Homo sapiens: one gene and its partners. The protein of the gene in region 2 interacts with the protein of the main gene of each other region in a pairwise test. Each region holds a gene or a part of one and is shown on either strand. Other genes may lie near its edges. The genes, in order: CELF4, RBPMS2, PPP1R37 and RBM41.

Evidence for each region.
Region 1: the proteins of RBPMS2 (region 2) and CELF4 interact in binary tests that used the Homo sapiens proteins (3 or more experiments, as listed by UniProt).
Region 3: the proteins of RBPMS2 (region 2) and PPP1R37 interact in binary tests that used the Homo sapiens proteins (3 or more experiments, as listed by UniProt).
Region 4: the proteins of RBPMS2 (region 2) and RBM41 interact in binary tests that used the Homo sapiens proteins (3 or more experiments, as listed by UniProt).

What each region holds. Positions count from the first base shown.
Region 1 is NC_000018.10:37,268,704-37,276,334, reverse strand, and holds part of CELF4 (CUGBP Elav-like family member 4), read left to right. Parts: exon of another isoform or gene 1-183; intron 184-606; exon of another isoform or gene 607-690; intron 691-1,091; coding exon 1,092-1,220; intron 1,221-1,450; coding exon 1,451-1,530; intron 1,531-1,739; exon of another isoform or gene 1,740-1,875; intron 1,876-1,880; coding exon 1,881-2,024; intron 2,025-3,171; coding exon 3,172-3,319; intron 3,320-5,417; coding exon 5,418-5,567; intron 5,568-7,631. UniProt on the Homo sapiens protein: RNA-binding protein implicated in the regulation of pre-mRNA alternative splicing. Mediates exon inclusion and/or exclusion in pre-mRNA that are subject to tissue-specific and developmentally regulated alternative splicing.
Region 2 is NC_000015.10:64,744,101-64,751,731, reverse strand, and holds part of RBPMS2 (RNA-binding protein with multiple splicing 2), read left to right. Parts: intron 1-93; coding exon 94-171; intron 172-1,350; coding exon 1,351-1,389; intron 1,390-2,238; coding exon 2,239-2,301; intron 2,302-2,581; coding exon 2,582-2,732; intron 2,733-3,164; coding exon 3,165-3,313; intron 3,314-7,631.
Region 3 is NC_000019.10:45,089,024-45,096,645, reverse strand, and holds the start of PPP1R37 (protein phosphatase 1 regulatory subunit 37), read right to left. Parts: upstream 3,468-7,622; 5' UTR 3,321-3,467; coding exon 3,119-3,320; intron 1-3,118. Other genes in the region: GEMIN7 (gem-associated protein 7), read right to left, coding at 6,136-6,531. UniProt on the Homo sapiens protein: Inhibits phosphatase activity of protein phosphatase 1 (PP1) complexes.
Region 4 is NC_000023.11:107,115,408-107,123,362, forward strand, and holds the start of RBM41 (RNA-binding protein 41), read right to left. Parts: upstream 3,416-7,955; 5' UTR 3,367-3,415; coding exon 3,359-3,366; intron 3,179-3,358; exon of another isoform or gene 3,137-3,178; coding exon of another isoform or gene 3,024-3,136; intron 1,360-3,023; coding exon 1,243-1,359; intron 838-1,242; exon of another isoform or gene 744-837; intron 648-743; coding exon 455-647; intron 150-454; coding exon 1-149. UniProt on the Homo sapiens protein: May bind RNA.

The DNA of each region.
Region 1 (7,631 bases), on a different chromosome or scaffold from region 2:
GAGAGGAGTGGCAGTCACACTGAAGTAGCAGTATGTGGGCTGGGGCTGCCTTCTGCAGTCATTCACCAGCTGCTGCAGGTGGATACAGCCCCATGCGTGCATGCTTTGTCTCCCTGAGCACACAGCATGGGATCAACAAAGCACCTGATACTCATCCCAGGTGTGTGGGGGCTGCTGAGGCATCTTCAGGAACAGACGCCCCCAAAGTGTCCAGGGTCGAATTTTGCAGCGTGAAGAAATAGGAAGAGCCAGACCGAGGAGGGCGCATCCAGATGGAAGAAAAAATATGTGACATACCAAGGAGGTGTGCCCTGGGATGGCACAGGACAGGCAGTCATTCATTCTTTATTCACCTCATCACTAAATGGAGGGCCTCCTGTGCTCCAGGCACTGCTGCTTCAGCAGAGAGGCCTGGTCTCTTTCCCCAGTGAGCATCCCAGGGAATGGGTGGGAAAGGAGAGCTATACGGAAACCCACAAAGTAGTCATTGTCCTTTGACATTCCGGCCACAGGGATGGGGGCCTGAGACAGAGTAAGGGAGGGATAAGAAGGGGCATGGGTGAGGAGGCAATACTCAAACTGAGACCTAGAAGAAGAGGACTGGACCTTGTGATAAGTGCGCTCCAGGCAGGGGAACAGCATCTGCAAAGGCCCGAAGTCAGACCCGCCAGTTGTGATTCATTTTGGAGCCTGTAGAGGATAGCATGTGAGACGAAGGAGGAGGGGAACGCAGGCTGCCCGTGTGCTCTAGTGAGGGGTCAGCCCAGGGTCTCTGCTCCTCAGGGTGCAGCCTGCCCTGCAGGCGGGAGGAGGCCGAGTCGCTGCGATCCAGCTCCTGCCTGCCACAGCTCTCTCCGCACCTGTCCCGCGACTGTGCGCTCCTACCCCACCTACTTCTCTCCCTCGCCCCTCCCGCTCCGACTAAGCCCCGCCCCCGTCCCCCTCCCCCGCACCTCTCCCCCGCCGGCTCCGAGCCCCCGCCCCGCCTCCCCGGCTCCTCCCTTTCCCTGCCGCTCTCCCCCTCCGGCCTTGCCCTGCTCCCGCGCAGCCCGGTCCCTGGCCCGGGTAAGCATCTCCTAATTTTGTTCTAGAAGATAGAAAACTCTTCGTGGGCATGCTCAACAAGCAACAGTCCGAGGACGACGTGCGCCGCCTTTTCGAGGCCTTTGGGAACATCGAGGAGTGCACCATCCTGCGCGGGCCCGACGGCAACAGCAAGGGTGCGCGGGGCGGGGCCGGGAGGGATGCCCCGGAGGGAGGGGCGAGGCGGAGGGAGACCAGAGGGCTCCTCTGAGTCTCCGGGGCCATCGCCGTCTGTCTCTGGGCTTCTTGGTGTCTCTTTCTCAATCTCTGCCTCACCCGTCTGCGTTCACCTGGGATGCGCCCTCTCCTCCCGGCCCCTCCCTGGCCCTGCTTCTGGGTCCCAGCTCGGCCTCTCGCGTCCTCGCAGGGTGCGCCTTTGTGAAGTACTCCTCCCACGCCGAGGCGCAGGCCGCCATCAACGCGCTACACGGCAGCCAGACCATGCCGGTGAGTGCTGGCCCCTTGGGGCGGGGGCGAGGGCAGCGGCGGGCCGAGACCCCAGCACCCGCCACGCCCCGCCGGCTGTCCAGTCTCCCCAAGAGACAGGAAAGCATGACCCTTATTCCGGGCCTCAGACAAGGACGCGGAAGCCCAGGGATGTTAAGGAACTGGCCTGAGGTTACCCAGGTGGAAAATGCCCGCGGTGGGGTTCACACCTCATTCCCCTGGGCGAGCGCCGATGCCGCCTCCTCCAAAGCGCCCCGAGGAGCGGGCGGGGTGGGCGCAGGCCAGAGGCACCGACAGCTGCGGGCGGAGGCTCTGGAGCAGGTGGGTCTCACGCGCCGCCCCGGCCGCAGGGAGCCTCGTCCAGTCTGGTGGTCAAGTTCGCCGACACCGACAAGGAGCGCACGATGCGGCGAATGCAGCAGATGGCTGGCCAGATGGGCATGTTCAACCCCATGGCCATCCCTTTCGGGGCCTACGGCGCCTACGCTCAGGCAGTAAGTGGCAGCGCGCACGGGCAGCGGTTCTCAAGCTCACTCCCCTGGGAGCCTCAGAGAGCGGGACATGAAACCGAAAATACTACTCTATCCCTTGCCCTCTCCCTCCAGAGTGAGGAGGGGCCGGGAATGAACCCATGAACCTGGGGGGTTTAACTTCAGAAGGGTTTGAAAGAAGGCTGGCCCAGTTGGGGTGGCTGCCAGGAGGAGGTGGGCTGCTGTCTTAGTTCTAAGGGGCAGAGCTGAGAGAGGCCCCACAGAAAAGTGGGTTACCCTGAGCCTTTTCCTCTCAGCCAGATCAACGTTGAACCCCAGGAAGCACAGATGAGAGGGTGAGGTTCAGGTCATTGGTTGCAAACCACCCCTACTCCATGGAACGGTGACTTCAGGCCTTCTGGTCTCTCCTGGCAGGGCTCCTGTGAGGTGCCCTAAAGCCCTACACACCCACACTTCTGATATCCCCTCAGGCCTCTGGCCCACCTACTTCTTTCTTCCACATGGGGGCCCACTCTGTCAGCCTCTCCCGGAGCTGCCTGCAGACTGGTAACCACAGCTCCCATGTGGGTGGCACTGAGGCAGGCCACGGTTCTGGGTCTGAAAATGCAAGCTTACCTCACTTCTGCAGTACTGTCCGCCTTGGCCACATTCCGCAGCCTCCCCTGTCCGCACTCACCTTTGTGACAACACTAGGGGTGCCTGGGGTTCTATTCATAATTCTCCTGTCACTTCTACCAACAGACTCCAAATTAAAACCATTCTGGACAGAAACCTGTGCTAAGTGAGTTCTGCAGAGGCTCATCCAGCATGTCTCTAGTGCTTTGGATGTCACTTCCCCACGAATGACAGGCTGTACACAGGGCTGACTAGCACCCACAGAGCCAGTCTCCTCCTCTGCCCCTAGCAACAACTTTGGAGTTCCAAAGACCCTAGCATTACTTTTAAATACAGTCATCTCTCAGGGTGGTGGACTCTAATAGCTGTTGAGGTACAGGGCAAGAATGGGAGAGGCATCAGGGCTTTCTGGAGTGGTAGTTGGGAGCTTCTGGGGCTCAGAGCCTGGGAGATTGGTCTCCAGGAGCTGAGGCCCCTGTCGGGGAGGGATGCCCCCTGGAAGCACGTGATATTTTTTCCACTCCCTCTGCCCCAGCTGATGCAGCAGCAAGCGGCCCTGATGGCATCAGTCGCGCAGGGCGGCTACCTGAACCCCATGGCTGCCTTCGCTGCCGCCCAGATGCAGCAGATGGCGGCCCTCAACATGAATGGCCTGGCGGCCGCACCTATGACCCCAACCTCAGGTGAGCTGGCAGGTGCCAACACGCGGTCTGGCCCGGTGGGAGAACAGCTGGCCCCAGGCTGGGACCTAATTTCAGCTACCAGCGGACCATTCTGTGGCAAAAGCACATAGTGTCTGGGCCCGAGAGGACTTGCCTTCTGGCAGTTTGTCTCAAAAATGTTCTAATCCATGGGGATCCAAGGGAAGATGAGATATGGGACCCATGCAGTCTACCGTGTGATTTCAGGGTGGGGTGGATTTCTCTCAAGCTGTTTAACCTTATCAGGAAACAATGTATCTTGATGTTTACCAACAAGAGACCTGGAAAGAAATTGACATGAAGACATCTCCCTGTGGTGTCTATGATGAGAAGAGCCTTGGCCATTCTGTGGCCTTGTTCAGCCCCTGGCCCAAGCACAGAAGGAACCCATTTGGGTGTCGTCTTTTTTTTTTTTTTTTTTTTTTCATTTCCCTTTAACCCAATCTAGACTCACTGGCTTTTTCTAAGACAACTATGCAACAAGCTAGAGAGAACCACAAGAGTTATCAAGGGACAGGAGTTTGGAAAGAACCCAGCTCACAAATCATGTTTTTGATTGAATCTTGGCTATTGTCCAGTCCAGTGAGTCTCAGCTGTTGCAGTTATGCCCCCGAATCCCCAGGACATCTGGCAATGTCTGGAGACATTTTTGATTGTCACAACTGGGAGTGGGGATTGCTACTGAAATCTAGTGGGTAGAGGCCAGGGATATTGCTGTATGATCCTACAGTGCACAGGACAGCCACCACAAGGAACTATCTGGCCCCAGATGGTAATAGTGTCAAAGTTGAGAAACGCTAGTCTAGTCCTAAGGGCTGGTCCTGCACCCCAGGCTCTTATTCACTGAGCTTCCTTGGCTCTCTGTGCCCAGGCCACAGCAGCAACTTTCCTAACATCCAAGAGCTGTTCCTTTCCCAGGTGAAAGCCAAAAAGACTGTGCCATCTCTGGGCTCAACTTGAACACTACTCTTCACCTCTGATCCCCAACTTCAAGGGATACACATGAGCCCAGGCAGTGGCCAACCTCAGGTCCACATTCTCAGAGGGACCCTGCTTCCTACATGAGAGGAAGGCCCTTTCCAGCCTCTGGGCTTTCAGTACAATCACCATAATATCCACATCTCAGGTTCCACCCACTTGGCATAGGGAGGACACAGGGTATTGTCATTTGACCCCAACTTTATTCTCACCATCATGACCACTACTATTGCTTCAAGTGGAGGAGGCCAAGGTGTCTACTTTGTGTATGAGCTAAAGCTGAGTCTGGGCTCTGTAATAACCTCTCTGCCTCAGTACGAGAGAAGGCCAGAATTAAGACCTACTCCATCTGAGCAGAAAAACTTCCTCCTGGAGAGGCATATCAGCCCCCCAATGACCAAGTAAAGACCAGCTCATCCAGCCTTAGCTGAAGAGAGTAAGAGCACTGAAAAAGACTTAAGGAAGGCCAGGTACGGTGGCTCATGCCTGTAATCCCAGCATTTTGGGAGGCCGAGGCGGGTGGATCACTTGAGGTCAGGAGTTCAAGACCAGCTTGGCCAACATGGCGAAACCCCAACCCTACTAAAAAATACAAAAATTAGCTGGGCCTGGTGGTGCATGCTGGTAGTCCCAGCTACTTGGGAGGCTGAGGAAGGAGAATTGTTTGAACCCAGGAGGTGGAGGTTGCAGTGAGCTGAGATTGCACCACTGTACTCCAGCAACCTGGGCAACAGAGCAAGACAAAAAAAAAAAAAAAAAAAAAAAGGACTGAAGGAAGACCAAGTGTGGTTACAGTCAAGGGCACTGAGAGTAGTCTATGTGCTGTCTAAGGACAAGCCATCAGGGTCAGAGAAATCTTATTTGGGCAGGTGGAATTTGGAGTCTGCCTTGAAGGATAGATACAATTGGGATAGGTGAAGTCACTTCATATAGGGAGATAAGCCAAGGCATGGGTCATAGATAAGATTGAACTGGTATGTGAGGTCCAAGTCTATCCGCAGGTCCTTGGAAACAGTTGAGTGAAGCTTTATGGGTGGGCCTTCCTCACCTTTGTTCTGCTTGCCTCCCCTCCTCCTCCACCCTTCTGTATGCCTGGAACCAGGTGGCAGCACCCCTCCGGGCATCACTGCACCAGCCGTGCCTAGCATCCCATCCCCCATTGGGGTGAATGGCTTCACCGGCCTCCCCCCACAGGCCAATGGGCAACCTGCTGCGGAAGCTGTGTTCGCCAATGGCATCCACCCCTACCCAGGTAAGCACATCTGTCAGCACTTATTTCCGTATGCAGCACATTCTTTATCCATGCTGTCCCTGCCCTTGCTGTTATAACAAGATGTGGCTCCTGCCCTCTGTCCATTCCTTGATGAAACCCCAAGTGTGATCAGAGAGGGCCAGCCTCCCATCTTCCTTCAGGGAGCCCGTGATGGAAAAAATGAGACCAAAATCCTGCCCTTGGGGATATGTCATTCTGATCTGGGAGACAGATCCCCATTCCAGGTGCTCCCTTAGGGAAGAAAGGAGACTGGGTGCAGTTGTACAACCATGTAGAGAGGCCAGTAAGTGCAAAATAATTGAGTGTGAATTTAACCTACAAGAAGTAAGGGGATAGAAACTAGAAGAACAATCAGGGTTAGTGTTAAGTAGGAAAAGACTCTTTGGGAAGGAGTGGAGGGAGGTATAACGATTGGCAGTCTGTCTAGTACAGACCAGTCCATCCCTTGGTGCACACAAAAGCGCGATCATGGTGCACGCAAAGCGTGATCAGCACCATGGACAGGTCAGCACCACAGACAGCCCAGCACCTTGGACAGCTCCTAGACTATTTTTTCAAATAGTCTGGCACACGGAAAGATCCAAGAGGCCTGCTCCTGATTACCTTTTTTCCTCAAACTTAGCCGTCCTCACAGGGTGAGAGTGTCCAGTTGGCCTGAAGCAGCTCTTCTCCCTGGTCTGGAGAATGGGCTGCTATCAGGGCAGGGAAGCTGGGCCCAAAGCCCTCTAGTAAACTACAAGGGAAATGTGCTCCCGATGTGGAGTGCCGCCCCGCTTCCTGGAGGCAGAGGATGAGGTTAGAGTCCCCGTAAGTATCAGTAAGTACTCAGTTTGTGCTGTGAAAGGGGGGCCCAAGAAGTAGAGCAGGACATGGACCTATCGCCTGGGAGGTCAGAGTCCATTGGGAACACAATCTAAGTCTGCAGAATGATGAGACAATATGGCAGAATTAAGTTTGATCATGAGTGAGTGTTCTCAGACTTGAAATGCTAAAGATCCCAATGAATGGACAGTTCTGTAGGCTAAAGAAGCCCCAAAAAGCCTTCCCAAGGAGGAAACTACCATCGAGCATTAACAGATGGGCAGGAATTGGAGAGGTGAAGATGAACAGGGAACACCCTCCTTTGGAGGGACCTGCCTGGCAAGAGTGGAGGTGGTAAGGAGATTGGCACACACGGCAGGCAGGCCAGCCCAAGGTGAATTGGCAGCAGGGGCTGGGTCCTGTTCCCCACTCTGGGTGCCCATCAGAATCCACTGTGGGGCTTTATACAACCACATAAGCCCAGACATTCTCATTTCCCTGTCTAGAGTGCAGACCAGGCATTTGTAGTATATAAAAGTCCCACTAGCAGCAGAGTGCAAGGTCACTGTACTAGAGGGAAATAGAGGAGAATTTCCTGACTTTGAACTTGGAGTTTTCCTTAATCCCATTCCCCATTCCAGAGCTTGCCCCATAATATATCCCTCAATCCACCAAGAAGAGGCCAGAGGAGTCTAGAGAGTGAAGTGATGAGGCTCTAATGATCTGGAGTGTTGTTTAAGGATGATGACCCCAAGCTGGTAGGGTGGCAGGGTGGGGCTGTGCAAGCTGGGGGTGGAAGAGATCCCACCAGTCTAAGGCTCATGGGCTGGGAGATGGCATCCCCAGCACATCTGGGTGGCTTCATTTCCCACCCCTTCCTGCCCACAAGCCCATCTGGATCTCTGGATCCTGATAAACCTGCTCCTTCCCAACCCCCTCTGGCATCTGTGAGCTATTTCCCTCATGGAATTTGGAAATGTTTCTTCCCCTATTTGTAACAATCTGCCACATCTCATAAACAATTCCTTGCCAGAGCAAGAGGGAGGGAGGGATGGAGGGAAGGAAAGGAAAAAAGTAGTACATTAAAAAAATTAATTTACCATCTTTAAATGCGGAGTTTGGACCCGCTGTAATGAGCGAGATCCTTCAAAATGTTCACTCTTTGGCAGTTACTAATGAGGTCGTTAGGCAGAGAAGTAGAGAAGGGTCTCATAAATGCTTTTTTCTGTTTCCCTGCCCCAG
Region 2 (7,631 bases):
AGAAGGATTCCAGTTGCCTGCCTGAAGGAAGCGCTGTTGTCATCCCTGTCCGTCTTGGGCAGCCTGGCCCTGATCACTGGTCTCTGTCTCCAGGTCCGGACACTGTTTGTCAGCGGCCTCCCTGTGGACATTAAACCCAGAGAACTCTACTTGCTCTTCCGGCCGTTCAAGGTGAGTCAGGACCCAGCCGCCCCCTGGGTAGAGCCTGGGACCCTGGAGAAGCAGCGGGAGTGAATCTCGGGTCGGGCAGGGCAGCAGGATGATGCGGGAAGGCGTGGCAGAAGCTGTGGGGGCAGGTCCAGCCCGTGTCCTGGTTCTGCGAATTCACATGCTGCCTTCTGAGCCTCTGTTTCCTCGCCAGTTAAATGGAGACAGTAAGAATCTTTTTTTTTTTTTCCTCGAGACGAGTCTTGCTCTGCCGCCCAGGCTAGAGTGCAGTGGCTTGATCTCGGCTCACTGCAACCGCTGCCTCCTGGGTTCAAGCAATTCTCCTGCCTCAGCCTCCCAAGTAGCTAGGATTACAGGCATGCGCCATTATGCCCGGCTAATATTTGTGTTTTCAGTAGAGATGGGGTTTCACCATGTTGGTCAGGCTGGTCTTGAACTCCTGACCTCGTGATCCGCCCGCCCCGGCCTCCCAAAGTGCTGGGATTACAGGTGTGAGCCACGGCGCTTGTCCTTTTTGTTTGTTTTGTTTTGAGACAGAGTCTCACTCAGTTGCCCAGGCTGGAGTGCAGTGGCGTGCGGCTCACTGCAACCTCCGCCTCCTGGGTTCAGGCGATTCTCCTGCCTCTGCCTCCCGAGTAGCTGGGACTACAGGCACCCTCCACCATGCCTGGCTAGTTTTTGTATTTTTAGTAGAGATGGGGTTTCACCATATTGGCCATGATGGTCTGGATCTCTTGACCTTGTGATCTGCCCGCCTCGGCCTCCCAAAGTGCTGGGATTACAGACGTGAGCCATGATGCCCAGCTAACAGTAAGAATCTTTAAATATATGTGGTTATATAAAGAATCTTTGAGATTCAGTGTAGCCTTTTCAGTTTGCAGATGAGAAAACTTAAAAGGTAAGGTCTGTGCTCTCGGGTTACTAGTTAGTGGAGCAAATGGGAATTTCTGCCTGAAGTGATGAGTGCTGCCGCGTGATGCCCACCCTATGTGCTAGACCGCGTGATTCAGAACGCAGGGCGGTGGACGTTTGGCAGTGGCGGAGGTCAGGGTGGGTTGATGTTGACAGGGAGAAGGGTGTGAGAATGACTCAGGGGAACGCGGGGGCTGATGAGGTGGCAGCGCTGGGCTAGCACAACATACGCTTCTGACCTTCCACGGTAACAGCCACCTCTCTCCGCAGGGGTATGAAGGGTCCCTGATCAAGCTCACTGCAAGACAGGTAATTTCTCTCCTAGGGTTTTCTTCCTCCCAGCCCAGACCGGCTGCTGAGCTTCAAACAAGGGCCCGTTAACCCTTCCCTAATCTAGAGGCATCTGGCGGTACAGACTTGCGCTCCCTGTTGTCCTGTTTCTGACAGAGCAGCCTCTGTAGGTCCCACTGTCTCTTCACTGGCCATCTGAGCCCAGCCAGCTCCTGGTCCTCCCTGTCTGTTTCTTAGGAATCTGGGAGCCCCGCTGGCTGAGGACAGTAAAGCAGTTAGCTGAGCTCTAGCTTTTTTTTTTTTTGAGATGGAGTTTTGCTCTTGTTGCCCAGGCTGGAGTGCAATGGCACGATTGAGCTCTAGCTTTTAATACAAGGAGGCCAGGGCCCGCTAGCCTTTGGGGGCTATTTGGGGTCTAGACTGATCCTTGGGAAAATGAAGTTGGAGCAGTTTTCAACCTATTGCTCCTTGATAGAACCGGAGTCTTCCCATGCCCTTGATACATTGGTGTCCCCTTTCTTGCTGGGGAAAACACTGGGACTTACTTTTAGTTATCTGCATGCATTAAAAACAATACTTTTACTAAAAGGGCGACGTTTAATTCAGTGGAATTAAGCTCTGTTGGCATCATTTCCCACAGGATATTCCTGGGGAGGGAGACTTGACTTTTGGTGCATGTTAAACTGCTGTTCCAGTGAACAGGGAGGATGTGGGCTGGAGTTTTGGGGGGCTTTTTTTCCTTTTGTATTCTCATCAGCAGGGCAAATACTGTTTCCACATAGATGATACTCTTTTTTTGTTGTTATTTTGGAGGGAGAGGTGGAATGCTAGGAGAGATATAAGGGTGTTCTCTCTTTTTCCTACTAGCCTGTTGGTTTTGTGATCTTTGACAGCCGTGCAGGAGCAGAAGCGGCCAAGAATGCGCTGAACGTGAGTAGGTGGAGAACAGGTCTTCTCTGACTCACAGCCCTCTTAGGCAGTGGGTGTGCAGATGTATCTTATTTCCCGGCCATCCCTGGGCAGAGTCCTTGGCGACACTGTCTGTGCCAAAGGCCATTACTCAAGGCCTGAGCTGCCTTTCCTCTGCCTCAGCCACCGTGTGGGCAGGTCTTCGAGGCGAGCTTGTTTATGGCGCCCTTCTCTACTCTCTGCCATTAACACTCTGGGTCCCCCGGAGTAAGCCTTTCTCTTCTTTTCTCTACCCATGTAGGGTATTCGCTTTGATCCCGAAAATCCACAGACTCTGAGGCTAGAGTTTGCCAAAGCCAACACCAAGATGGCCAAGAGCAAGCTAATGGCAACTCCAAATCCCAGCAACGTGCACCCCGCCCTAGGAGCACACTTCATCGCACGGGACCCCTGTGAGTGGCACTCTGAGCTGGCAGGCCCTCATGGAGTTGCATTCAGGGCAGACTTGCAGGCTCTTGCAGAGGGAAGCCCCTTTTCCAGGAGGCTTTTTGTGTCCACGGCCACCCATTTTTGAAACACCTGGTTTTCCTCCCTCCCCTGCAGCCTGCCTAGAATTTCTGAGCTGCCAGGGCTTCCAGCTTCCCTGCAACCTTCTTTAATTTCTCATTTGAGACGAGCTGAGGCCTGTCTTAAAGCAGGCAGGATGCACACCATGACAGGCCGATTTAACGTGGCTTCCTTGCCTGGTCTCGGGGTCCTCTGTGGTTGGGGGTGGTCTGGCCTCAGTGTGGGGCATATGGCTCAACCATAGTGCTGGGTCCCCTTCTCCGTTTGGAAGGGGAGGCGAGTGTTCTGATGATGGAGGCCATTGTCTCCTGTTGTAGATGACCTGATGGGGGCTGCTCTGATCCCTGCATCCCCAGAGGCCTGGGCCCCCTACCCTTTGTACACCACAGAGCTGACCCCAGCCATCTCCCATGCTGCGTTCACCTACCCAACTGCCACTGCCGCTGCCGCCGCCCTCCACGCTCAGGTAAGCCCTTTAAGGTTGGGGAGGGCGAAGAACAAGGGCTCTTAGCTGGCCAGACTTTGCATGTGCCTGGCCACTTGGCCGCTGCTGTCCCAGAGCTGCAGCAGAACTCTTGTCTTCCTTGATGGTTTGAAAGCCCAGACCCCAGGGACCTATTTGTCCTCCCCTTGGGTTTAGGATTTGACAGGGAGGGAGAAGATAACCCACGAGTTCCCATGGAGGATGCCAGGCAGCCCAGCTGTGGTTCCCCAGCCCCAAGCACCCCTGCCCAGGCACCGACTATGTTCTCCCATGGTGATGGGACTATGATTCCAGTCCTAACCTGGGTATGGTCTCTGGAGTCAGACCATCTGCCTCTGCCCCTTCCTGTCCCTTTCATCAAGCTCTTACAGATTGCTGTGCCTCGATTTTTTTTTTTTAGTCATCTGAAAAATGGGAATGATCAGATAATCTGCCTTAGGGTTGTTGTGAAAGTTAGATGTCAAGACGAAGTGACTACTGAGTGCTAGGATGTAACCTAGAGCGCCCTGAGTGTTGGCTCTCGCTTCCATGAAGGCTGGACGCTGTCCACTGTGAACCTGTGCCGGGCAGGAAACAGGGAGTGAATGCTTCTGGGGAGAGTCGGGGCTGTTAGAGCAGGGCCAGGAAGGCTCTGTGTGGGGTGCTGGGCTGGGTGCCCAATGGGCAGGCAGGGAGTCAGGCTTTCCCCTGGCCATGCAGGCGCTTCCTCTGGTCTGACTTGGCCACAAGTGCAGGTCACTGGAGCACTCTGCAGGGGAGGTCTCATCCCACTGTGCGTGTGTCGGGGAGCAGTGGGGTGCCTCACAGTGGCAGTGACAAGTTGCAGCCAGGCAGCCACAGGAAGGGGCTGGGGGGCACTTTTGAGCCCACCTCAACCTTTGACCAGCCAGGTGATGAGCACTAATCCCCAGGAAGAGCTGCCCGGCCAGGGTGTGCTGTGCTGCTGCGAAGGAGAGAATTGAGGTTGCTGGGACCTGGCTGGGGAGCAGGAGGGGATGAGGAAGGAAAGCAGGAGAAGCCAGAAAGGAGGGTTCACAGGAGCCAGAGCTGAGGCGGGAGGAGTCGGGTGCTCTGCCCGAGAGCTGTGTGTACGTCCATTTTCAGGTTCTTCCAGGGACTCAGTGACACCTGGGTTTGTCCAGTTCCAAAGCGGAAAGTTCAGATTCAGGGGCTGCTACCCTAGCAAACTGTTTTCCCCAGCAGGGGAATGCTCCCTGGCTCCGCAACGTTCAGTTGTACTGAGGGCAGAATTGTGGTTAACCCTGGCGCTCTTCCCCAGCTGAGCACCACAAATAGCTTGAAAATTGATCAGAGGATAAGGAAGGTGGTAAAGACCTTCCCCTGGAGGGAATTGTTGGGTATTTACTGCAAACTGGGTTCTGTGGCTGGAATAGAGCGGGGAGCAGGGAAGCTCATCCTGTCTACCCTGACCTGGGCAGTGACTTGATGCTTCAGGTCAAGCGGATGTTTAACTGCAAGGCCCTGGGAGGCACTGGAAGGAATCACAGGCTCCCACCTCACTGGGCTTCTCACCTCTGATCCCAGCTTTGGCACCAATTGGCTACATGATCCTCACCTCTGTGTCCCCATCTGTAAAATGAGAGGGATAGACCAGATAAGGTGGAGAGGTTCTGCCCTATCCTCTGAATTGCTAGGCTGTGACAGAGGTTGGGAGCCAGGGACAATGAGTTTGTCAAATGAATCAGAGAGGGCACCTCTGCCCAGCCAGGTGGGGGTGGCACTGCTCTCTGGCCCTGAGCTCCACGCCACAGGGCTTCCTTCCTCCTGTTGGCTTCCTTCCCAGTTTTCTCCCACCCCATCCACACTCTGCAGCTGTCCAACTCTGGCCCAAATCCTGGTTCTCAACAGCTGTGGGACATTGGGCACGTTACCCACCATCTCTGTGTTTCTGTAAAATGGTGATGATAATGCCTACTTGATAGGTGTGTTGTTCGCATGATGGCATGGAGTCGCGTGATGGCATGGAGGGAGTGCTGTGAAAGTGCAGATGGTTGTGATGTTATTTAATATCATTATTGTCTGGGTTCCCTTGGGTCCTCTCTGAGGCTGGAGGCCTCTTTGTGCCTGAGTTCCTGCCTTCTGGCCTTCCTTGGACGGGGACTGGGATAGAGGCCACCCACCCCAAAGGATAGTGGCGTTTTTGGGGAGGCAGGCTAATGGGAAGAGATTAGACCAGGGAGTCATTAGTTCTGTCCTTGCTACTCAAACTCTCTGGGCAGCCCTTTCCTCAATAGTAAAACAGGTTGTTTTACTGTTTCCCGACTAAGAACATTTTATTTTTTTCCTTCCAACAGCCCCACTGCTTGCCCCCTGACAGTGCTGCCCCAGAGATAGGGTATAAAAGTGTCTAAATGAAGTATGGACACTGTTGATCTTAAGTGAATTGTTTTGAACCCAAAAGACCAATAGAAGGACTGAGTTTTTCTGTGCCTGGGGGCAAGGAGGTGACTTCAGGAGAAGGTAGCAGCTGAAGGACAAGGTGATGAGAACAAGTACCTCTGTTCTCTACCCCAGCTGCATGCCCTTTGCCAGTAGCCCAGCCTGAGCCCAGGCCTCCACAGCTACGTGGCTGCAGAGACCAGACCTGCAGGAGGGGTCCTGGAGGTTGTTTGGTCCTGCTCTGTCTTGGCATGAGGCTACCTTGCCTGGCCTTCTAACCCTCTTGATAGAATCTTCCCCTTAAAGAGGGTGAGGCACAAAAGCAACTGTGGATGGCAGGCCCAGTGGGGTTCAGCATAGAAAGATGGTGGCCTAAAAGCAAGGGTTCTCAGCGTCCTATTGCATCCCACGGTCCTCCCAGACTGGATTTCATTTTACGTTCCAACCTGAGGATATGCGGGTCTTCCATGGCTTTTTTCTCCCCCTTAAACTGGTTCACCCATTTACCAGTGACCTTAAGGTTACATAAACTCCCGTGCCTCTATTTTCTTATCTGTATCATGGAGATGATAATAGCATCTACTTCATAGGGTTTTTGTGAGGATTAAATGAACTTAGTATATGAAATCTACCTAGAACAGCATTGGGCACAGGGGAGGTGCTTCATGAGCAGGAGCTATTATTGTATTAGCATATCTGCATTTATGGAAAAAAACAGGCAGTTTTTGTTCTCTTCCCTTTGGCTTATCATCCAATCCCCAGAAAACCTGTACTTTTAATTCTTCAGTTCGATAGGTAGTTTGGAGCAGGTGTATAAGTAAATCTATAGGTATGAATCTTAGAAAAACTGCAATACATATTTAATCTTTTAAAAACTTAAATATTAGGGCCAGGCGCAGTGGCTCATGCCTGTAATCCCAGTACTTTGGGAGGCCGAGGTGGGCAGATTACCTGAGGTCAGGTGGTCAAGACCAGCCTGGCTAACACGGTGAAACCCCGTCTCTATAAAAATACAAAAATTAGCTGGGCGTGGTGGCGGGCACCTGTAACCCCAGCTACTCAGGAGGCTGAGGCAGGAGAATCGCTTGAACCCAGGAGGCAGAGGTTGCAGTGAGCCAAGATCGCGCCACTGCACTCTAGCCTGGGTGACAGAGCGAGACTCTGTCTCAAAAAAAAAAAAAAAAAAAAAAAAAAAAAAAAAACAAAACAAACCAAAAAAACTTAAATATTAGGACTTAAAATAAATAATAGTAAGTGTAGCTCTACATTTTGGATACCTGGCTAGTACACCATTGTACGAATGTGTCCAGCTCCCTGTAGATGGTAAATTGGTTTGTTTATACAGTTTTGCTTACTGATAGCTATACAACAATGGATATCCTTGTGTGTACTTCTGGGCACCTCTTCTGTTTTGTTTTCTTTCTTTCTTTTTTTTTTTTTTTGAGACAGAGTTTCACTCTTGTTGCCCAGGCTGGAGTGCAATGGTGTGATCTTAGCTCACCTCAACCTCCGCCTCCCAGGTTCAAGTGATTCTTCTGCCTCAGCCTCCCTAGTAGCTGGGATTACAGGCATGTACCACCACGCCCAGCTGATTTTGTATTTTTAGTAGAGATGGGGTTTCTCCGTGTTGGTCAGGCTGGTCTCGAACTCTCGACCTCAGGTGATCCGTCCGCCTCGGCCTCCCAAAGTGCTGGGATTACAGGCATGAGCCACCGCGCCCAGCCATTGTTTTGTTTTCTTTATGATAAATTCCTAGAACTATGACACGGTGAAAGTGTAGACTTACCAGTCTGGGTTAAATGTTTTAATTTCGGATAAGTGAGGCTTCCATATCTTTGGTTGTTTATATCTTTTTTTTTTCCTTTCTCTTTTTTTAGTTATTTTTATTTTTTTGAGACAG
Region 3 (7,622 bases), on a different chromosome or scaffold from region 2:
GCCAGGCTCCAACTGCCCCTCTTTTCTTGACAGATAGCCTTCTGCCTCTCCAGTTCTTTCACTGCCTCTTCAAGACTGCACGTGAAAACAAACAAACAAACAAAAAACAAATCTGCCTGGATGACAGCTGCTATTTATGTGGCAGAAATTTATGAGGACTATCTTACTTCATCTTCACAACTACCCCATGGTAAAAATTAGCACCTCCATTTGCAGAGAAAGAAACAGAGGCTTGGAGAGGAAAAGTGGCTTACTGAATGAAAGCCAAACCTGTTCTGGGAATCTGCAGACCAGAAACTTTACCCCCCAAAGCCCAATCTGTGCCAGACTCTCTTGCTGCCCTCACCCCTGACCCTTCAGCCCACAAACTGACCATCTTCCCCCTCGCACCTCACTCCAGGCCCACGCATTGACTGCCATCTCTCCCCTCTCCTGGAAGCCTCTGAAGCAGCCACATCCAGGCCCCACCCCATGCATGAACTCCTCCACACCAGCCCAAGATGACCAACACTGTCTTAATAACAATGACTGCCATCGAGAACACTCACCCTGGCCAATTCCTTTCCATATGTGACTTCATCCAGTCCTCTCCTAAATTCCGTGGCAAGAGTATTGCCACCTACTTCACAGATGGGAAGACTGAGGCTCAGGAGTTAGGTAACCAGCCCGAGGTCTCAAAGGATCTGACCTGGAGCCTCTGCTCTTGAAACACCCTGCTCTGCCTCTCCAGGTCTTTCCCCTTCCTGCTCTGGACTGGATATCACGCAATAGCCAGGGGGCATTCTGACTGTGCCCGGGTCCCAAACTAACCACCTATCCCTGGGGCCTAGAGCCCAAGGACTTGGCTGGCTCCTAGTGCCAAAACTCTTTTTTTTTTTTTTTTTTTTAAGACCGGGTCTCTGTCACCCAAGCTGGAGTTCAGTGGCGCAATCACAGTTCACTGCACTATCGACCTCCTGGGCTCAAATGATCCTCCCACTTCAGCCTCCTGAGTTGCTGGGACTACAGGCGTGCACCACCACACCTGGCTAATTTTCGTATATTTTGCAGAGACGCGGTTTCACCTTGTTGCCCAAGCTGGTCTTGAACTCCTGGGCTCAGGTGATCTGCCCACCTTGGCCTGACAAAGTGCTGGGGTTGCAGGCATGAACCATGGCGTCCGGCCCAAAAGTCTTAATTTAACCACTGCCTCTTTAAGAATAACTAGCCAGCCGGGCACGGTGGCTCATGCCGGTAATCCCAGCACTTTGGAAGGCTTAAGTGGGCAGATCACCTGAGGTCGGGAGTTCGAGACCAGCCTGGCCAACATGGTGAAACCCCCAACTCTACTAAAAATACAAACATTTTTAGCCAGGTGTGATGACAGGTGCCTGTAATCCCAGATACTGAGGAGGCTGAGGCAGGAGAATTGGCCTGGGCGACAGAGGGAGACTCCGTCTAAAAAATTATAATAAGTAGCCAAACTGTCATTCATGATGGACTCCCTGTGTGTTCAGTTTCCAGTTACCATGTTTCCCACCCTCACATCAAAGCCACCAATTCCTCCATTGTCCACAGACTGGCAATAGTTTCTCCCCTTGCCCAGGGCCGGCAGATCAGCTTCTACAGAACCACGGCCACCACAGCCAGTCTGATCCCTCACTTCATGGGCTCCACCCCAGGAGAACTGACAGACTTCTCCAGCACAAAATGGACTCAACACTGCCCTGCATGTCCCAAGCGACTTTCCACTTTCCCAGCCCTATGGCTCCAACACACTCCTTTCAGCTCCAACACTGACCTGACCCTCTCCAGTGCGCTGGCCCTCTCTCCCAACACTTCAAGTAGCCAACTTTTTCATCTCTCTCACCTGCTACTGGCCAGCAACTCCAATTTCTGACTTGATAACATCCCCCAATTCTTTTTTTTTTTTTCTTTGAGCCGGAGTTTTGCTCTTGTCACCCAGGCTGGAGTACAATGTCGTGATCTTAGCTCACTGCAACCTCCACCTCCCGGGTTCAAACGATTCTCCCTGCCTCAGCCTCTTGAGTAGATGGGATTACAGGTGTGCACCACTATGCCCGGCCAATTTCTGTATTTTTAGTAGAGACGGGGTTTCCCCATGTTGGCCAGGCTGGTTTTAAACTCCTGACCTCAGGTGATCCACCCACCTTGGCCTCCCAAAGTGCTGGGATTACACGCCTGAGCCAATGCACCCGGCCATCCCCCAATTCTTTCTCAGGAAGGAACAAGAGGACCCTTCCGTAGCCATGTCCCAAACATCCTCTGCTCCTGAATGACTGACAGCCTTCCTTCTGCTTCTCTTTTTTTTGGAGGAGGAGGCGGCGGTAGGCGTTGGCTTTTCTTCTTAATACCACATTGCAGCAGGCGGCGGTGGCTCACACCTGTAATCCCAACACTCTGGGAGGCCAAGGAGGGAGGACAGCTTGAACCCAGAAGTCCGAGACCAGCCTGGGCAATGTAGTGAGACCTTGTCTCAATAAAAAAGAAAACATAAAAACCACACTGCCTCTTTCTCCCTCACCCAACCACAAATTGACCACCACCTCTGCTCCTCTTCTGGGACCTTATCTTGACTCCTTTTTACCAAGTCCTCTATAGCCACAGTCCAAGTTTATAGTCTCCCTCTTTCCAGCCAAGAAAGTGGCCAACACGACCACTCCTTGCCCCAAGGCTTGCAGACCAGCAACTTAACCTCTTTTTACCCCCATAGACCCATCAAACTCTTTCAACTGCCCTTTCAGGCCCAGTGTTGACCCGCTCCTCCTCTCAACTGCTCCTTCTCTCCTTCTCTGGTGGAACTACGAACGCAAAGGCTGCCACACTCTACATCTGACAAAACACCAAACTTTCTTTAATTGCTCATCGTTTTAAACCCTAAAACGATCACCATCTTTGTCTCGGGTGGGTGGGGTGCGGCAGAAACCAGATACTTTTCACCTTCCCAACTCCATAGCCACCCCCTTTCTAACAGACTACGGTTCTAAACTGACGACTGTCCCCTTATTCACCATTAGGTGCAATCTATTGAACGCCACCTCGAGCCGGGCCCTGCACCGATCCCTCCCGACTCCCGGGTCCCTCTCGAGCCCGCCCCCGCTTCACCCGCGGTAGCTACCATGTCTCCAGGGGTCTTTGGGCTCCACTGCTCCAGACACGATATCCTCGTCGGACGGGAATGTGACGCGCTTGGCTGCAGCCTTGAGGCGCCCATCGGCGGGGGGCGACGCGGGGCTGGGAGACCCGGCCTCAGCTGGGGCCTCTTCAATGTCGCCGTCCGCGCCCGGCACGGGCGGCGCCTCCTGCGGCGCGATCTCCATAGCCGCCGCCGCCTCCTCACGGGGGCCCCGGGGACATGCCCCGGGCCCCGGATTTGTCTCTCCGGGTCCGCCCGCCGTCCCGGGGCATGGGCTCCGCCGCCGCTTCAGGCGCCGCCTCCGTCCGCTCTCCTAGTGGTCGTAGTCGTCGCCGCCGGGAGCCCAAGCGCGCCTCCGCCGAGCCCCGCGCGCGCCTGCCCGTTCGCAGTCACACTTTCGCTCGAGGCTGGCGAGCCCGCCGCTTACTATAAGAAGCAGAAAATCGATTTCAGCGACTTGCACGTAGAGTTGTCCCGCGGGTGACATGAAGAGAGAAACAAAGGGCAGGAAGGGCCACGGAAAAAAGAAACGTGAGCAGCGAATCTGCAGAGCCGGAACTGCAGACTATGAGGGGCGGGGCGAAGTAGACGCCGTCTCCAAGAGCAGCGCGCAAGCGCGAAGCTGAGCCCACGCCTTCCTGCCGGAGTCCAAATAACGAATATTCAGCTCCCGCACATTCGTCAAGAGCCCAGGGAATGGAGTGCATAGAACTGAAAACACCTGGCGGGGCGCGGCGGCACACGCCTATAATCCCAGCACTTTGGAAGGCTGAGGCGGGAAGATCGCTTGAGTCCAGGAGTTCGAGACCAGCCTGGGCAACATAGCAAGGCCCCGTCTTTACAAAAAATTTAAAAATTAGCAGGGTCTGGTTACAGGAGCCTGTAGTTCCAGCTACTTGGGAGGTGGGAAGATCGCTTGAGCCCGGTAGGTTGAGGCTGCACTGAGCTATGATCGCGCCCCTGCACTCCGACCTGGTAGACAGAGCCAGACCCTGTCTCAACGAAAGGAAAGAAATGGGCCGGGCGCGGTGGCTCACGCCTGTAATCCCAGCACTTTGGAAGGCCGACACGGGCGGATCACGAGGTTAGGAGATCGAGACCATCCTGGCTAACACGGTGAAACCCCGTCTCTACTAAAAATACAAAAAATTAGCCGGGCGTGGTGGCGGGCGCCTGTAGTCCCAGCTACTCGGGAGCCTGAGGCACGAGAATGGTGTGAACCCGGGAGGCGGAGCTTTTAGTGAGCCGAGATCGTGCCACTGCACTCCAGCCTGGGCGACAGAGCAAGACTCCGTTCCCCCCCCCCCAAAAAAAACAAAGGAAATAAATGAAAACATTGAGGCTAGACTAACTGATGAAGAGTGGTAACGGCATGAAGAAGTCGAAAAGAAAGGCGGATAGGAGCTGCATTCAATATATGAGTGCAGTTGATGGATGCTGACAGGGATACTCTGGAGACGAAGTCTCGGCCCCTTCGCTAGTCTCTAGTCCTCCATTTGCTCGCTGCAGTTACATCAACAGCTCTCTGTATCGGGGTAGAGTTGCATAAAATACAACTTAAATTACAATGCTAAAATAAATATGAGCCCATGAGCGGTATCATAGGCCTGATTTTAAAAAACAAAACCTAGGAGAAGGTAGAAATTCCAAAGGCGAGAGACGAATCTGCCAACCTAAATCCTGGGTGACAAGGCTGGTGGATCACCGAGGCAAGAAAGAACCAGCGTGAGCTCAAGCCACACCCCTAGGCTCAGACCCAACGCTTGACATTCGCCGCCGCACTTTCGCCACGCTTGCCGAAGCGCACCCGGCTAACTAGAGGAGGCGGGGCTGAAACCATAAAAGGGAACTGGGGCGGAGCGAGCTGCGTCGTCGCCAAGGCAACTCGAGAGCTAAGTCCGGGCCTCGGCGGAGCCGGCGCTGCGAATGGACTGATGGCCGCTGAGGCTGCTCCTGGCGCGGTTCATCATCGGCCGCCGCACTTTCGCGACTGAGACGAAACGACACTCACCTTTACTTAATGGAAGGCTTCGCTTACATCCTGAACTTAAAGGAACTACAGAAAGGGACAGAAACTGCTTTCTTTTTAAACAATGCGCTGAAAGGTTACTAGTGATAGGAGGCTTAGTGAAGCGCGTGATGTGAACGGCCACGCTGCAAGGCTGGAGAGAAAAGAGGAGGGAGTGAAGTTGCACCCTGATCGCGAATCCTCGGCCTTTTATCAGGGGCGCCGCCACTCGGGGTCCGACCATTCGCCTCCAACGAGGGGACAGCGAATCTGCTGTCGTGTGCAGTCCACAGCAACCACAGGTGGGGCAACAGGAGGAGCGCTTGGGCACGACCACGTGACCCAGCACGAGCCACCGCCCGCCCCAAAATGAAATCAAATCCTAATCTCCCAATCCCGGCATGCCGGTCACTCCAGCCTTTCCAGGAGACTTGCGGCCGTGCAGCCCCTACACCTTTATCTGGACTCCTGTCGTACTTGGCCCAGCTCCACTGGATTCAGCCCTTGGATAACCACCCTACCAGCCCCTAAAGATGACTCCATCCCCGTCGGTATAGTTAATTAAAGAAAAACAGGAGTCGAATTTTCCTGGGGTAACTGGTTCTTTAGCAGGAGGGGAGCACTGGGGAGTATCTTCAGGGTGGCTGGACTTTGCAGCCTCTTTAATAACTTCCCCCTGTGCAGGTTGTATCCTTTATCACCCCACCCCGATGCCCCGGTCTTCAGGAAATGGCAGCAGGCCCATATTTCTGTAGGGTTCAGAGTTCTGTGAGGTAGAGCATTCCTTCCAATGGGATCTTAGAATTCCTAGAGTTGCAGAATTTTACTGACTAGACCCAGGAGGTCTCAGGAGTCCAGACTTGCTTAAAGCTTGGCTCAAAATTCCAAGGGAGCTCATAACTCCATGGGGCCCAGAGTTCCTGGCTCGGGAACATTGGGAGGCCTGGGATACAGTGCCTTAGCCTCAAGCAGAAAAGTGAACACAATATCTTTATGGCTTGAAGGTATATGAAATAATGTCACTACATCGGAGCAGCGCCTCTGCTTGCACACCTATGGGAGTCTGCAGCTGTGACACGTAGAAGTTGGCCACATCCAGGTCGGTGGCTCCAAAGTGGGCGGCCACACGCACACCCTCGTGCAACGTGAAGCTCACCTGATGACCCACCATGGCCAGCAGGCTGCGGAGGTAACGCTCCCGAAGGGCGGCTCGTGCCCGCTGCTCCTGGGATTCCAGGGATTCTTGAGCTATGGGACACTCCTGGATTTCAGGAACCTCTGGCCTCAAGGGGGCTCTGCGTCCATCAGGGGCAAAGCCACGGCTGAAGCCATCAGGGCCCCGGGGCAGCCGGAGCACAGGCACGGGAATGTTCACTGGAGTTTGCATTGTCTTGGCTGTTGAGTGAAGAAAAAGAGCAGGAAGTCATTACATGGTAAGCATGGGGCTAATGGAGGAGGGAGGAGTGGAAGCAGAGGCTGGTCTACCAGGCAGCTCCACTGCACCTGCCCCAGACTGATCCACCCTCCTAAAATCTGTGCCATCGTCCCCCAATGGCTTGGATCAGAAACAAAAGTGTCACATGCACAAAAACATGAGCCCCGTGAAGGCAAGGACCTTTGTCTGCTTTTATAATGTTTTTATCTCAACTTATAGGCAATAAATATTTGCCAAAAGATGAACCTGGCCAGGCATGGTGGCTCATGCCTGTAATCCCAGCCCTTTGGGAGGCCAAGGCAGGAGGATCACTTTGAAGCTGGGAGTTTGAGACCAGCCTGGGCAATATAGCGAGACCCCATTTCTAAAAATATATATATATATTTTACATTAGCTGGGCTACTCAGGAGGCTGAGGGAGAAGGATTAGTTGAGCCCAGGAGATGGAGGCTGCAGTGAGCTGTAATTGTGCAACTGCACTCCAGCTTGGGTGACAGAGTGAGACACTGTCTCTAAAAAAAAGAATAAACCCCAGCTTTCTCTCACACACAACCCACCCAATCCATCAGGAAATTCTATCTTCTAGATAGATTCCCACTCACACATGAGCTAGCTTGAAAGGGCTCCCAGTGGCCAAATCTGGAATTATTTGAACAATACAATAATGATAGTTACAGATTATAACCCACTGGATAAAACAGAAATCCAGAATCCATACCAATAATAAATAAATGAATAAATAAGGAAGAGAAGGAAAATATAATCCTTACTGTAGACTGGCAAGTAAATAAATATAAAAGGAATAGATGCAAAAATGTGTGGATAGGGCCGGGTGCGGTGGCTCACACCTGTAATCCCAACACTTTGGGAGGCCAAGGTGGGCGAATCACTTGAGGTCAGGAATTCGAGACCAGCCTGGTCAACATGGCGAAACCCCGCCTCTACCAAAAATACAAAAATTAGCCGGGTGTGGTGTCATGCGCCTGTAGTCCCAGCTACTCGGGAGGTTAAGGCAGGAGAATCATTTGAACCCAAAAGGCGGAG
Region 4 (7,955 bases), on a different chromosome or scaffold from region 2:
TTTTCTATTTCCATTTCTCGCCGGGTCAGCTGTTTGCTCTTTGCAAATCTCTGTGGCAGGCAAAGAATGCGCTGACGCTCCGAGATCCTTTCTTCAATATCTTGAAGACGGTTCTGTATTGCTTCAGGAGTTGCCCTCAGTTTTGTCTTCTGAAACCAGAGGAATGAGATGGCATGTATCATAGAGGGCACAACCTGAACATGATGATCTGGTATCTCAAGTAAAAAGATGACCTAGGCCCAGAAATGAATGTTTACAGAAAGTGTTAGCTAAGAAGTTAAAGAACAGCTTCTCTTTTACCAATGTCTGCATTCTAAAAATCAAAGAAGATTCAGACACCAAGCTCAGTTTTGTGAGAACTAGAAATGAAAAGGCTCTCAGTGCTAAAATGAAGATATTTTGCTCTGTTTCTTTGAGGAGAAAAACCAACAAAAAAAAACATTACCCCACTCACCTTTTCACCAGAAACATGGCTCTTCCAGATCAAGATTTCTGTTTCATTAAGCCCTAATTCCCTGAGAGAAGCAGTTTCCTGGTCCTTCTCATGCAGTGTCTGGAATTGGGACAAAGTCATAGTCCCAGCTGCTTCCTTCCCAAAGGGCTTGTACATAGTACCAGGAGCAAAGCTCTCTTTCTTAGACATACATCTGCAAAACATGCAGGAGGAGAGTAAGAACATCTTGAGGTTACTATCATTCACAAAAATGGAGGTTCAGCACTGTAAGAGGTACAATGAAACTCACCAGCAAATTTTCTCTTACATCTTATTTCTAAGCTGAAGCACCACTGCAACAAAATGGAACTCCATCGAGAGTGCCGTCATCCAGGAATAATAAACTAAATCAACAAATATTTATTGAGTACTTACTATGCATCAGATACTCTGCTAGGTACTAAGGATTTAATAGCTTTATAAAAAAGATAAAAATGGCTCCTGCTTTTGTGGAAAAACAGTGGAACAGAGGCAAGTAAACAGGCAATGATAATATTGGGTTACAAGTGCTATGTTAAGGGAAATATGGGATGCTGTAGGAGGACATAAAATAGGTACTTGGCTCAGACTTAGTGAGATATGGGAGGCTTCCCAGAGGAAGAGACACAGAATTAAAACCCTACCTAATACATTGAAGTCTAACAAAGAAAGGGAGGTGGGAGAGGAACATTCCATCTAGGCTTTAAGAGAGATCTGTCACCTGGAGGTAAGAGTCTATGATACTCTCCGTTTGCAAAATCAATACCTACTCCTCAATGGAGACAGAAGTATCAAGTTGATGCTGAAGGAGGCTTTTCAGCTGCCTCTCCCCTTCTGTTTCCAGCTCCTCCAGGACATGCTCATCACTCTTCACACAGCTGTTTACCCTGGAGTAGACATAAGAATATATACAGAAAACGGAAGAGACTGTGAGTCTCAAAATATATTCCTTATCTATATTATCTACCATTACTGACCCCATTTATTCAAAGACACTTCTCCAACAATTCATTGCCCTTTACCATTTAGTCCATGAACACTTACTAAATACCTGTTTACACAGAAGGCACTATGCTAGGTACTGAGGGAAGTCAAAGGTGTTTAAGACATAGTCCCTATCCTCAAGAAGCCCACAATCTATTTAGGGAGAAGAAGTGTGTGTTTATGTGTTGTGTGCATGTGCCTTGGCAGCGGGGGGAGGAGAGAATAATAACACATAGAAGCATATGCCAAATTAGTAGAAATTCACAGAAGAGAAAATTGGGAGATAAAGGTGGTAAAGGAAGACTTCAGAAAGGTACTTTTAAGCTGACATTCAAAGGTGTGTGATGCAGAAAAGGAGAACAGGGAAAGAGAGTACAAAGGGATAGTAATATATACTGAAGGATAATAAGAAGTAGTAATTTATCAAACAGTTAAGTGACACAGTGCAAGTGATGGTTTAGACAGATGAATGTGGTTATAATATGCCATAGAGATTCAAAGGGAAGAAACAAGAAGAACTAGTTATGAAACTACTGAAGTAAAAGGTGATGAAGGTCTAGACTGAAATGGTAATAGTGAAAATGGAAAGAAAGGGTTAGATGAGAGAGGCCTTTTGGAGGCAGAGGCAAGGAAGTCAAAGATAATCCCAAAATTTCAGTCTGTGTAACTGAGAGAACAATGGTACCAATGAAGGAAAGACAAAGCTCCAGATGGAATAAATGATTTGGGAAAGGGAAAGTCAGTATTGTTTTAGCCACATTGAGTCTAGTAGCTTTTACAATAGAAACGCCAGCATGAAGTATCAGGAATACTTCAAATACATGACTAGGAACATTTTGTTTAGGGATAAATTCATATGTACTAGAAACTATTTGCTTTTTTAAAAGCAAGGGAATTAATAACACAAAATTCCGGATAGTGGTCACCTCAGGGGGGAACGAAGGGAGGGAAGAGACACAGTAGACTTCTAAGGGACTGGCAATGTCCTATTTCTTAAGCTTGTAGTGGATGCGAACCTTTATTATTCTTTAAGCTGTATATATACATTATACATTATTTCGCATGGAGGAGATATCATAAAAAAATATTAAAGGTTAGTTTCAGGCAGGCAAAGTCATAAACGGTTTTTTAAAAGATGCAAGGAACTGACAGTGCAGGAAAGCATATCAGTAAGAATTTTAAATGCACTGCACTATTCCAGAGTGATGATTCTACTTGCAGAGTGAATCTAAAATTAATTTAAGCCCGTCAATAGTTAGGAGGCTCAGGCCATTTAGGCTCAAGCGGCCATTTACCTCAGGACAAGTAAGGGGAACTGAGCCCAGCAATGCCTTCCACCTCCCCTCCCCCCACCCCATAAATCGAACCGCTTTGGTGCTGTCCTTCCACATTTAGAAACAAAGTACCGCTCCCTTACTTTAAGATTCGAAAGCGCTACATGGTTTCGGGGCCCAAGCAAGTAGTCTTTAACACACAGACGTTGCAAATAAATGCGCCCGCCCCGAGCCTTTCTCAGGTGGAGGTGGAGGTAGGGGAGAACGGCGAGGGGCTGGCCCGAGGTACCTACATCTCCGGCGCCGGGAATTTGTCAGCCTCAAACCCTTTTGCCCAGCTGGGTCCGGGTGAAACGACGAAGCCGCAGCACCCGGCCAGCTCCCGGGGCCCGTGCCGGGAGGGCATTCCCACAGCAGCCGGCCCCGGTGGCAGCCCTTCCTGAACTTCGCTCTGCAGGCCTGTTCAGCCCGTCTCCCCTCCTCCCGTCTCCTTTGTCGTGTTCCCGCTCCCACGAAACCGCATCCTGAGAACGTGCAATACCCAAACCAGAAAGCAATGGAAGCCATTTTCAAAAGAAAAGGTAGAACAAAGCTCCCCTTGCCGCCTGCTCTTCAGACAAGTCCTTACCTCTTCATGTTTCCACAGGCCCCTACCTCCAACTTGGGTAAATAGGCCGCGGACCTCAAGTCCCAGAACTCCGCGCGGCGGACTTCTAAGGGTATTGTGATGGAGCATGGGGCTCTGGGAATTGTAGTAGCACAGAGCTATGGCAACAGAAAGAGAAAGTAGATCTCAAGTGACAGGTATGCTGAACATTGTCCAAATATTTATTTTGAATTTCTCATTTAGGTTCAAAAGAAGACCCAAAATATCCAGCTCATAAAACGAGTCACCTTTGACTTCTTGATTCTCTCATCCATTACCACTAATTCCTGGCTCTTCTGTAATTTCCTTTGAACTTATCAACACTGCTTTTCTTTCAAGGATTTATCCAGCCTACCTACCGTTTCCAGTCGAGCCTCTGCTTCATCCTTCACGATGTAGCCAGAGTCATCAGACACGAGTCTGACTATATCACCTGTACTAATGGTTCTCCTCTATCTGTAACAGAGACTTGAGAGTTTTCTCCACTCAGAATCAGAAGTCTGTGTATGTTCAGGCCCACATATGTTTTATTGATAATTATGGTGAATCAAGAAAGAGGTATAGTATAGTGGTTAAAAGCATAGGCTCTTAGTTTCCAGAAATGGAAATGCAAATGTCTTTAAGTGTATGAAAAGATGTCCAATCTCACAAATTTTAAAGTACACTGACTACCAGTACTCCTTAAAACTAGCAAGGTCATCAAAAACACAAGAATCTGTCACAGCCAAAAGGAACCAAAGGAGTCATGATGACTAAAGTAATGCAGTATCTTGGATGGGATCCTGGAAAAGAAAAAAAGACATGAGGTAAAAACTAAGGAAATGTGAACAAACTATGCTCTTTAGCTAATAACAAGGTTCGTTAGCTGTGACAAATGTATCAGAGTTATGCAAGGGAAACTGAGTTGTACGTATGTGGAACTTTGTACTATGCAACCTTTCTGTATCTAAAACTGTTCTAGAACTTAAAGTTTATTTTTAAAAGTACATTAAACTACCATTTTTCACCTAACAGATTGGGAAAGATCCAAAAGTTTGATAACACACTTGTTTTATTGAGATTGTGGGGAAACGGGCGCTCTCAATACACTAGTGGTAGGAATATAAATTGGTACAACATCTATTGGGGGCAAATGAGGATACTACTAAAATCATAAATGTACATTCCCTTTAAAGCAGCAATTCAGTTATGAATAGAATCCTCAATACTATATATCCTCTAACCTACTATCATTCCTTGCAACATTGTTTATGAAAACAGAAATGAAAATATCCAAGAACATACTATGAAAATGTATCATTCAATGAAAAACTATGCAGCAGTTACCAAGATGACAAAGTTCTCTATGAACTGCTACTAAACAATCTCCAAAATATAGTTAGTGCAATAGCAAGGTGCAGAACGATATGTATACTATGCTTCTATTTGCATAAAAAGGGGAGCTCTAGTCACTTAAAAACATATATATGTGTGTTTGCTTGTATATGCACAAAATATGTTTGGGAGAACTTACAGACAAATGATGAGTGAATGCCTCCAGGTAGGGGAACTGGATGGCTGAGGGACAAGGGCAGAAAAAATTCTTCACGTATCTTTTTGTGCCCTTTGAATTTTGAACCCATGACTACATTACCTAGTCAATACTTTTTTAATTAAAGAGAAACCCTCTTACATCTCAAGAAGCCAAAGAAGAAAAGATTGTAGGTAATGGTGGGGGGCGGGGCACACTACTTGGATTTGAATCTCACTTCTCAGTTGACAGTATAGCACGACAGGGTTTTAGAGGCAATCTGGACTTGAATTTTTGCTCTGGTAAGTTACTAGACCATGTGGGTTTCAGTAAGTTTCTTAACTGGTCTAGGCCAGTTTTCTCATCTGTAAAATGAGGATACCTCCTAAGTATAGGGTGACTGTCAAGCACATACAAAGGTATGGTTTTAAAGTTATTCCATGATTGAGTGGTAATCTATGAGTAAATAGTCAAATGTTAATCAGTAGATTTAGACTTATCCAAACTGCTTTGTATTTCCATGCTCAAGTTAGAGCAAAGGACCAAAAAGCAGCTACTGAAAAACATTGTAGAATTTCCTGTCCTGAGAACTTCTATCAGATTGAAAATGTCATGGTGAGCTACCTAAGACCTGTCACATGCAAATAACTGTGCTCTTGAATCATAAAGGTGAATGACTGCAGGCATAGCATGTACCACTTTGTAGCTTTGGCACAGAACGTGAACTGAATATAAGTATAAACAAAACGGGGGGTCACATCATTGCCTGCACCAGGTAAATCCTATATGGTGGTAGAGCTGAATTTTGTGGCTCAACCAATCTGTCCCAATTGACATATTGACAAGGAAATGGAAAAATACACCAAGGTTGCTAGTGTGCTTATCCCCTGGGACGGTGGCAAAGGATGGAACAAATATTACACCAACCATCACACCAAACTTGTGTACAACTTCTAATAAAACATATAGCCTATTGATACTGAAATGATACACACTACATTGCAAATCCACTAGGTGGGATGAGTGGAGAACGAATAGCTAAGATACATATTCACATAGCTGTGGAATTGCAACTGGAAAGCAAGGTCATAAGAAGTACTCTACATACCTGTGTATAACTGTAACCAGCGCAAGTGATAGGTACAAACAGACAAACATTCAGAAAATTACACTAAAAAGAAAACCAGGCCATTTCTAATTCTGCCAAACTTGTTAACTGTGTAATAATAGTTATTCTGTTTCCCACAACATTCTTCTCCCCAGCTTAAAAGGACATCAGACAGTGTATACAAAGCCTTGGAGATCTCTAGATGTTATACATGGGCACAGAGATCTTACCTAATTTCACAATTTTACCCCTAGAAGAATTTATGACAAACCGAAAAATATGCCTCATTTGTCTTTCTGTCAATTTAACAAGGTTAGTTTAATTAATCCAGAAGCTCCTTCTTAACAGAGACACATTTTCTGAGTTTGTCCTTTTTAGGTGCTTTGTTTGTGGCACGCTTCTGAAGACTACATTATGAAGCAGTTATGATTCCAAGATATGGAAGAAGATGTTAAAACCAAAAATCTTCTCTTGAATCTACTCACCATCTTATATTAAGAGTAAACAACTGTGCAAGTCTTTCAAATTTCCCAAATGAAATAGCATAAATGCTGTTATAGAGAACAAATATAGCATCTTTTCAAAGGATTAAAAAATGGGTATGTACTGGGATAGTGTCAACACTTTAAATTTAAGAATTCTTCAGCTAATATGTCAGCTGGTTAACAATGGTTACGAGGGGCTGAAGACTCCAGTGCCTAACATAAATGATGCTTTAACATTACTGGTAAAAATAGCTTATTTCTGTATTTCTGACCTTTTAATTAAGATTTGTCAACGTGACTGGGCACGGTGGATCACGCCTGTGATCCTGGCACTTTGGGAGGCCAAGGCGGGTGGGTCCTTTGAGCCCAGGAGTTCAAGACCAGCCTGGGTAACATGGCAAAACCCCATCTCTACAAAAAACTCAAAAATTAGCTAGGTGTGGTGGTGTGCACCTGTAGTCCCAACTACTTGGGAGGCTGAGGTAGGAGAATCACTTCAGCCCAGCAGGCAGGGGTTGCAGTGAGCCAAGATCACGGCACTGCACTCTAGCTTAGGTGACAGAGCAAGACCCTGTCTCAAAAAACAAACAAAAAAAAATTGTTCAACAATGTCATTTCTTTACATGTTAGAAATGGTCAGGAAGAATCTTAGAGATGATTTATGATTTAGTCCAATGTACAATTCCAGACAGTATACTGAGATCACCCTGTAAGTCTTAATAACATTACTAGATCAATCTAGAAGCCAGTTGCTATCCTCTGGCATCTTCTATGTACTAGGAAAAACACTAGAACTCCCACTGAAGATAATGTAACAGTAAGATAGTATAAGCAGTATTGTAGTCTCCTTTTTCTTTATTTTACTTAGGAAATATAGAGTAAGCACTCTACTCACAGTGAAAAGACATAAAGGAATCTCAAAACTTCAGAGAAATGAAAACCAGTTCCTTCTCACAAAACAGTTTGGGAAACCCTAATATGATCCAACTCTTTCATTTATGGACAAAGATAATGCCCAAGATGAAATTATTTGTCCAGTTAATTAGGCAGGAACAAGACTAGAGTCAGTGTTTCTTCTGATAAACTATATTTTCATTACTGAATGTAGAACTTGTACACAGGCTACTTTACAAGAGTTGAATCTCCAAAAGCAATGGGAAAAAATGTCTTTAGTATTACTCTTATCTACAGTATAAGAGTAATAATACTGAACTGAAAAATTAGAGATTACTAAAGATTATACTTAAAAGTTGTGTATCTACAGAAATAATTCACAAGATTATATGAGTTCTGGATTATTTTCACATTCTATAATTCTGCGTGGTTACAAAAACTTACTGGATAAGAAGCTGCTGCTTGGAAAAGTTTGAGTAGAAAAAAAAGAGTCCATGTCAATTTTGGCATTTAGTCTGCTCATAAGACTAATCGTTGCTAATATTCATTTCAAAAATATTTCTTCGTGTAATGTGTACCCGC